2 linked regions of the Homo sapiens genome follow. The gene in region 2 interacts genetically with the main gene of each other region. Each region holds a gene or a part of one and is shown on either strand. Other genes may lie near its edges.

What was found.
Region 1: changes in ARMC6 (region 2) and SPPL3 together harm fitness less than expected from each alone (positive genetic interaction), as found in Homo sapiens cells (one large-scale study listed by BioGRID).

The regions. Positions count from the first base shown.
Region 1 is NC_000012.12:120,771,696-120,775,506, forward strand, and holds part of SPPL3 (signal peptide peptidase-like 3), read right to left. Parts: intron 1-3,811.
Region 2 is NC_000019.10:19,032,373-19,036,675, reverse strand, and holds the start of ARMC6 (armadillo repeat-containing protein 6), read right to left. Parts: upstream 3,074-4,303; 5' UTR 2,746-3,073; exon of another isoform or gene 2,663-2,745; intron 2,546-2,662; 5' UTR 2,467-2,545; coding exon 2,438-2,466; intron 1-2,437. Other genes in the region: SUGP2 (SURP and G-patch domain-containing protein 2), read left to right, coding at 3,157-3,187.

The sequences.
Region 1 (3,811 bases), on a different chromosome or scaffold from region 2:
TTCTGCAAACACAGGTTTGATGAGGACACAGAGCTGTTGAGAAACTCTTCATGGGGTCTTGTGGTGGGATGAATGTCCAACTCCCTGGCCAGGGAGGGCACTCTCCACTGTACAGCCCAAGCCCTCAACACGCATTCCTGTGGCTCTGTTTTCTAGACAGTTCAACACAATTTCCCGCTCTCCACACATACTGTGTTCTTTTCACGCTCTACCCAGAAGGTCCTGCCCCCGGCTCCTTCATATGGAAAATCCATCCTCATTCTGGAAGAGCCAGGTCAGGAGTCCTTTCTCAGAGTCTTTCCTGATCCAACCAGTCAGTTGCTGCTGCTCTTTTTTTGTTTTTTTGAGACAGAGTTTTGCTCGTTGCCCAGGCTGCAGTACAATGGTGCAATCTCAGCTTACTGCAGCTTCCACCTCCTGGGTTCAAGTGATTCTCCTGTCTCAGCCTCCCGAGTAGCCGGGATTACAGGCATCCATCACCACACCCAGCTAATTTTTGCATTTTTAGTAGAGACAGGGTTTCACCATGTTGGTCAGGCTGGTCTCAAACTCCTGACCTCAGGTGATCCACCCACCCCGGCCTCCCAAAGTGCTGGGATTACAGGCATGAGCCACCGCGCCCGGCCCAGTTGCTTCTTCTATGTGATGTGCCATAGAACGTTGAATGTCTCTCAACTCACTCATCCATTCTATGACCTTGTGAATATTTACATACTGGTAAGTTTATTCCCTGTGCTAGCTGACCACGTGCTCCTGGGAAACAGAAACCATGTCTGATTCTTTCTGTGGATCCCTAGCACTTGACAGAGTAGACATTCAATAAATACTTGCTGAATGAATGCAAAACTGTGTTCTATTAACTTCAAATTTCAAATTATTCTAAGGAAAGTAAAAAGCCATATGAACAGATATATTTCATTTTCATAGAACTGGTGGTAAATTGTCAATATATGTAATAAAGTGGATAAATACAGCAGCTTGGCAGACCCTGGACACATCAACTAAATTACTGTTTCATGGGTTCCTACTGTGTGCACGGTGCTAATATAAACACAGAGGAGAAAAAGCTGCCTCATCCCTACAACTCAGAGGAGTTGGAAAGACAGTATTCAACCTAGGAAGAGCAAAATATATATCTTCATCTCCACTATCATCACTGTTATCAAGCGCTCACTGAGTTACAGGGTGAGCTGCAGTGTGAGTTCTGGAGAGATGTGGTCAAGATCTAATTCCTGACTTTATAATCATATAGAATGTTTATTATACTAAGGTCTCCTTTAATTTTTAAATAAATTCATACAACCAACCTGGTAAAATGTATACAAATGCATGTCATTTGAAATGAACCTAATGAAATGTATTAGTCAGTGAGGCTTGACAAAGCTCAGAGCATTCAGAGCTGCAAAGGGATGACTGAAACATGATGTTTAGGACACTGAGAGATGTACCCAGAGCCCCTGCTCTGATCAACTCACACGCATATTTGAAAGGACAGGACCTCCCATGATCATCATCTTTAGGAAACAAAGATTTGGTTGTGTCATGAGTCAATAACCAGGACATTACCAGGGAGCAGCTCATCTGGCTGGAGGAACAACAGTGGTCAGCAGCAGGTGGGAAGCCCATCGGGCCAGAGCACAGGTGAGACACAGGTTTGTGTATAGATACTGGCTAGGGTGATCTGTTCATGGACTTACAGGTGAATACATGGAATGCAAGGCATCAAGGGCACGAAGAAAGTAACAGAAGGCCTAGGATGGACAGACGGGAGACAGGAGTCTGCGGGGAGTGAGGGTCAGAGGACTGAATGATGCAGCTCACCAGTAACCAAAAGCGGGGCAGGGAAACAGACTGAACAGAGAAGCAAGAGGCCAGGCTCCTCGGGGTAAGTTTATTCGCCTCTGTGACACATGTAGACGACCTGTCCCTTCCTGACCTTTTCTTTTTGGAGATGGAGTCTTGCTCTGTCGCCCACGCTGAGTGCAGTGGCACAAGCTTGGCTCACGGCAACCTGTGCCTCCCAGGTTCAAGTGACTCTCAAGTGACTACCAGCGCCCGCCACCATGCCCAACTAATTTTTGCATTTTTAATAGAGATGGGGTTTCACCATATTGGTCAGGCTGGTCTTGAACTACTAACTTCAGGTGATCCACCTGCCTCAGCCTCCCGAAGTGCTGGGATTACAGGCATGGGCCGCCGCGTCTGGCCCTTCCTGAACTTTTGTACTCAATTTGCCATAGAATCACTTCATCCTAACTGCGCAGGAGCCTTGAAAGGTCACAAGGTCTGAGCATCCACCTGCTGCTTTGTCATTCATCTCATGCTAATCCTCCTCCACCTGCGTCTAAACTAAACATGGAACAGACTGCTCAGTGACTGGGTTTTCCATGACTCCAGACAGTGTCATTCTATCCTAACCTTCCAAATAAGAAAGTCTGGGTTCATCTTCAACACATCACAGCCTCTCATCATACACATGAAATCTGCAGCCATTCTGAGGTGTTATCCTTTACTGTTACTGCAGACCTTGCTCACACCTCCACCCACTTCCTACTTTGCTGTGTCTCCTTTCCCTCCCTCCCTCTTACTCTTTCCCATGTACTGTTCACTGCCACTGTCAAACATCTGTTCACATAATTTCCTGCCTGAAGGTCACCAGGTTCCCTTCTCTATGACGAATCAAGTCTAATTATAAAGTTGCATAAACTCAGGAGGCACAACCTCCACAGAGTGGAGCTGAGCACCATGCTGGCTCTGCCTTGGCATCTGTCTGAACGGGTTCCTATTCCTCAGCCTATCCCTTCTCTCCATCTGCGTTAAGCTGAACACCCTCTTTCCAATTAGACCATCTAGGTCCTCCCCACTCTAGTCTAAGTTCCGTGTATGAAGAGGCAGAAGGCATCCTTTTGACTGTCTCAGAGAAGGCTCTTAGAGGCATGTGGAATAAATACCACTCTGACCCAGCGAACACTGCCACAAGCAATGTCGTATTCCCAGAACATGCTCTCAATCTAGTTTGCCTGCCTTTCATTCTGTCATTCAAGTAACCCTTAAAAAATCTTACCTCCTCCTCAGGGCTTTTCAAGGCTAAAGTGAAGGGAGGTGCTCTCTTTCCCTTGCGGCTTTAGACACTCCTGAGACTCTCTCTTATAGGTTTACCAACACACTTAACTTTTGGTTAAATGTACATTAACCAAAAGTGTTGGGGGAAGTAAATGATTAATCTTAGCCATTTAGCTAGAGTTATTTTCAATTTATCACTGATATCTCTGTATTACATTGTCTTCTACAACCAGTGAGTCAGGGACAAAGACAGTGACACCAAACCGAGCTCAAATGTTCTCTACGAGGATGACATAACCTGTAAGGTTTCTAAGCAGTGCTCACATTCGCGATACAGGCTCTCTAGATATCTATGCCCTATGTGGAGTCAGCGCACCAAGAGTGTAGCATTTTATTTATTTATTTATTTAGAGGCAGAGTCTCACTCTGTTGCCCAGGTTGGAGTGCAGTGGTGCAATCTCAGCTCACTGCAACCCCTGCCTTCCAGGTTCAAGTGATTCTCCTGCCTCAGCCTCCCAAGTAGCTGGGACTACAGGTGCATGCCAGCACACCTTGGTTAATTTTTTTATTTTTAGTAGAGATGGGGTTTCACCATGTTGGCCAGGCTGGTCTCCAACTCCTGACCTCAACTGATCTGCCCACCTTCGCCTCCCAAAGAGTTGGGATTACAGGTGTGAGCCACCGTGCCCGGTTGAGTGTAGCATTTTAAAACAAAATATCAATTGTTAGATTTCTGGCCCTAAACATG
Region 2 (4,303 bases):
TCTGCCCCAGAAGAAAAGGGAGCTCTTTAAGGGCTGCTATGGATTTCCAAGGTTAAAGGTGAAGGAAGAGTAATATAAAGAGTTTCTCAGTAGGGAGTAAGGAGTAGGGGACTCCACTCCCACCACCCCGGCCAGGCCAGGAAATTCCTTGTGGCCCTCAAGATCTTTACCTGAAAACAATTTTGTTGAATGTCACCCTGGCAATGTAAATTGACAGGTGATCTTCACAAGTGCAGGACAGAAAGTCATCACCTGAGACAAATGCATATCCAGTTGCTCTCTCTGCCCTAACGTTTATGTAAAAATGCAGATTTGGCCTGGCTCCGTGGCTCATGCCTGTAATCCCAGCATTTTGGGAGGCTGACACCGGTGGATCACCTGAGGTCAGGAATTCGAGACCAGCCTGACCAACATGGCGAAACCCCGTCTCTACTAAAAATATAAAAATTAACTGGGCGTGGTAGTGGGCGCCTGTAATCCTAGCTACTCAGGAGGCTGAGGCAAGAGAATTGCTTGAACCCGGGAGGTGGAGGTTGCAGTGAGCCAAGATTGCGCCATTGCACTCCAGCCTGGGCGACAGAGCGAGACTCTATCTCAAAAAATAAAACAAAAAACAAGAAACAAAACCTCAGATTCATGAGTCGGACTGAGGCATAAATGACTATTCCTCTACCTGCCCTGTACCCCATATAAATCGTGTATTCTGTGAAAGGCTGACCAAAGACTCAAAAGAAAGCAATCATTTGTCTCTACCTGTGACCATCTTACACATATTCATTTATATCTCACGTCTCCCTAAAATGTATAAAAGCAAGCTGTGCCCCAACCACCTTGGGTACATGTTGTCAGGACCTCCTGAGGCTGTGTCACAGACATGTCCTTAACCTTGGCAAAATAAGCTTTCTAACTGATTGACACCTGTCTCAAATACTTCGGATTCTCAGTCCTCTGTGGAGCTTCTGCCAGCCCTTCCAGGTGGCTGCCTTTCCTGGCCACTCAGAGAGCCCACACTCTCTGGCTTCACTCCCCAACCCACAACCCCTCCCTTCCACCCACCCCTGAGCTGACTGAGTTGGGAAGGTCTGGCTCTGTGACCACCCCTGACCTGAGTCCTCCAAGGTCCCCTAGATCTGGTACAGGGCTGAGTTGGAGGAGGAAAGTACAGATTTGGAACACATAAGATGGTGCCTGGAGATGGCCAAGTAAGAATTACCTGGAGAACAGCCTAGGCTAAAAGGGGGAAGCAGCATTACCAGTCCCTATTATCCATCAGGGCATGCTGAGGGTAAAACAGAAGATGAGTAAGGCCCCTAACTGGCAGCCAGTTTCCTTCTCTCAGCCAGGAATCTGCTCATCAAGAAAACTGTGCTGTCCAGGTGCGGTGGCTCAGGCCTATAATCCCAGCGCTTTGGGAGTCTGAGGCGGGTAGATCACTTGAGGTCAGGAGTTTGAGAACAGCCTGGCCAACATAGCAAAATCCTGTCTCTACTGAAAATACAAAAAATTAGCCAGGGCCGGGCACGGTGGCTCACGCCTGTAATCCCAGCACTTTGGGAGGCCGAAGCGGGCGGATCATGAGGTCAGGAGATCAAGACCATCCTGGCTAACACGGTGAAACCCCGTCTCTACTAAAAAAATACAAAAAAACTAGCCGGGCGTGGTGGCGGGTGCCTGTATTTCCAGCTACTCGGGAGGCTGAGGCAGGAGAATGGCCTGAACCCAGGAGACGGAGCTTGCAGTGAGCTGAGATTGCGCCACTGCACTCCAGCCTGGGTGACAGAACGAGACTCCGTCTCAAAAAAAAAAAAAAAGGCCAGGCAAGATAGTGCACACCGGTAATCCCAGCTACTCAGGAGGCTGAGGCAGGAGATCGCTTGAACTCCTTTTGACTCCGTTTCAAAAAAAAAAAAAATACAAAATTTAGCCAGGTGCGGTGTTGCGCACCTGTAGTCCCAGCTACTCGGGAGGCTGAGGCAGGGGAAGCCCTTGAACCCGGGAGGTGGAGGTTGCAGTGAGTCAAGATCATGCCACTACACTCTAGCCTGGGCGACAGAGAAAGACTCCGTCTCAAAAGAAAATTAAACGTGTGCCATGACATGCTGGGGACTCTAAAAGACTCCATCCACATGTCCCTCTACCAGCCACACCCACTCTGGTTCAAACACCAGCCTCCCCTAAGGGCGGCGTCACCTGCCACTCCCAGAGCCTAGACTCCACCTCACTCACGTGCTCAAAGCCCGGTAGTGGCTTCCCAACCCTCTCAGAACAAAACCCAGCCTCCTTATCCGCACCTTCTCTATCTAAGCCTTCCAAGTTCCTCTTCCCCGCCTTTCTCATCCTTCCCAGCACTCAAGAGACAGCCTTCAAAACCACTTCTAGATAAAGAGCAGCCCTGCTTTCCCGTCCCATCACTCTGTTATTATTTGCACACCATTACCTGTATCTAGAGCAACATCGTTCACTCATTTATTTGTACCCTGTAGCCTCCTTGTCCCCACTGCCTAGGACGGGGCCCGACACGCAGCAGGCACTCAGTGCACAGGTGCTGAATGAATAAATAAAATGAATGAAAATAAAGCGAATGCCAGGGAAGCCGAGGATTTTGTCCCCAGGCGGCTTCTGTAAAATTCTTTCATTTTTTTTTTCCCCCCAAACCACGTACCCGAGGGTCGCGCCAGCCCGACCCTGCGGCACCCCCACTCCCCACTCCGCGCGGGACAGGCCTCGGCAGCCGCAGCGTCTCACCCGGTCTTCGCGGCCACGTGGGGAAAGGTGGGGCGCGCGGTTGTCACCCAGGGAGCCGCCTCTAGCCCCTTCCGGCCGCCGTACGCGCGCAGGCGCTGTGGCGCCCCTAGGCTTGGCCTCCCAGAGACTCGCGGACGCTCACGATAACCAAGGACGACCGCGAACCAAGGTAAAGCCAACGAGGCCACCTCGTGCGCGACGGAGGCGTCTTTGCCGCCCCTTCCGGGACGCTCACGGTGGTCGCCGCCCCCAGCAGGGAAATGTTTTGCCTCCAGAGCGTCCGCCCAGAAGAAGCGGACAGCGCGCTTGCGCAAGAGAGCCGGGCCGCGGCGGCCCGCGCCTGCGCACCAGGACTCGGCGGCGGCTTGCGCCTGCGCGGCGCGGCGCTGCGGAGACCGTTGGTTCATTTGCATGTCCCCGCCTCGCGCGGCGGCGGCGGCGGGTGAGGAGCCTGAGGCGGCGGCGGGGGTGGCTCCGCGCGCGGTGGTCTCGGGGTGAGGCCCGGGCCCTGGCGTCGTCGGTGGGTGGCTCCCGGGGTGGGAAGCTCGGGCTCGGCCTTGGGGGCCCGCCCCGGGCTCCGTGATGGCGTCGCAGGCTCGGCCCTCTGGCTGCGGCGGCGGCCGCGTCCCCGCCGGGTTGGCCTGGGTGGCCGGCTGCGGCCTCCCGGGCCCGGCGCCCCCATTTCCTCGCCCGCAGAGGCCGGGAGACGGCGGGCCGCGTCCACAAAGGCTCATTGGTTCAGTCGTTCATTCATTCCTCCCGAACTCGGAGCGGCCCCCGCTCGGGAGGAGATAACGGCGCCCAGCGCTGCATCGGGCCCTTGCCCTCTTTAGAACCGGTTCAGCCCCCACACCAGCCCCTTTACTGGCTGCCCATTCCATAGGTGGGGAAACGGAAGCACAGAAAGCTTAGAATCGTGTGATTTGAACCTGGGTCACCTGACCCGGGAACCCTGCCCTTTGCCAGCAGAGAACAAGGGGGCGCCCCGGGAAAAGGGCTGAAGGATGGGACTGGGGGAGGCGGGTGGGGGAGGCGGTGATCGTGATGGGAAATGGACCCTACGGGTTGTCTCTTGAAGTTGGAGGTTTTGCGAAGCGGGATATCTTGATGGTTAAGGATGCAGCCCCTGGACCCCAAAATGTTGCTTAATCTTTTTACTCATTCTTCGGGGCTTTGGATGCACGAATACCCTTTTTGCCAGGTTCAAATCTGGGCTGTCTGGTCTTGAATGGGTCGTTGAGTCTGTCTCCCTTTGCCTCCTCACCCTAATGTCATTCATAACAGGACCCGCCTCTTCAGTGGGTGGTTGGGAGATCGCGCAAGGACCCAGCGCAGAATGAACTGTCACTAGTTCATTGTCATTGGTTGGGGGTCCCGCCACTCACTGTCAAGAGGCTTCTTTTAGAAGGGAAGGAAGTTCTCAGAGCCTCTGTGCCCTGCTGAGTCTGTGAATGGGAAAAGAGTGATCCTGGGCCAGGCGCAGTGGCTCACGGCCTGGAATCCCAGCACTTTGGGAGGCCGAAGCGGGCGAATCACTTGAGGTCAGGAATTCAAGACC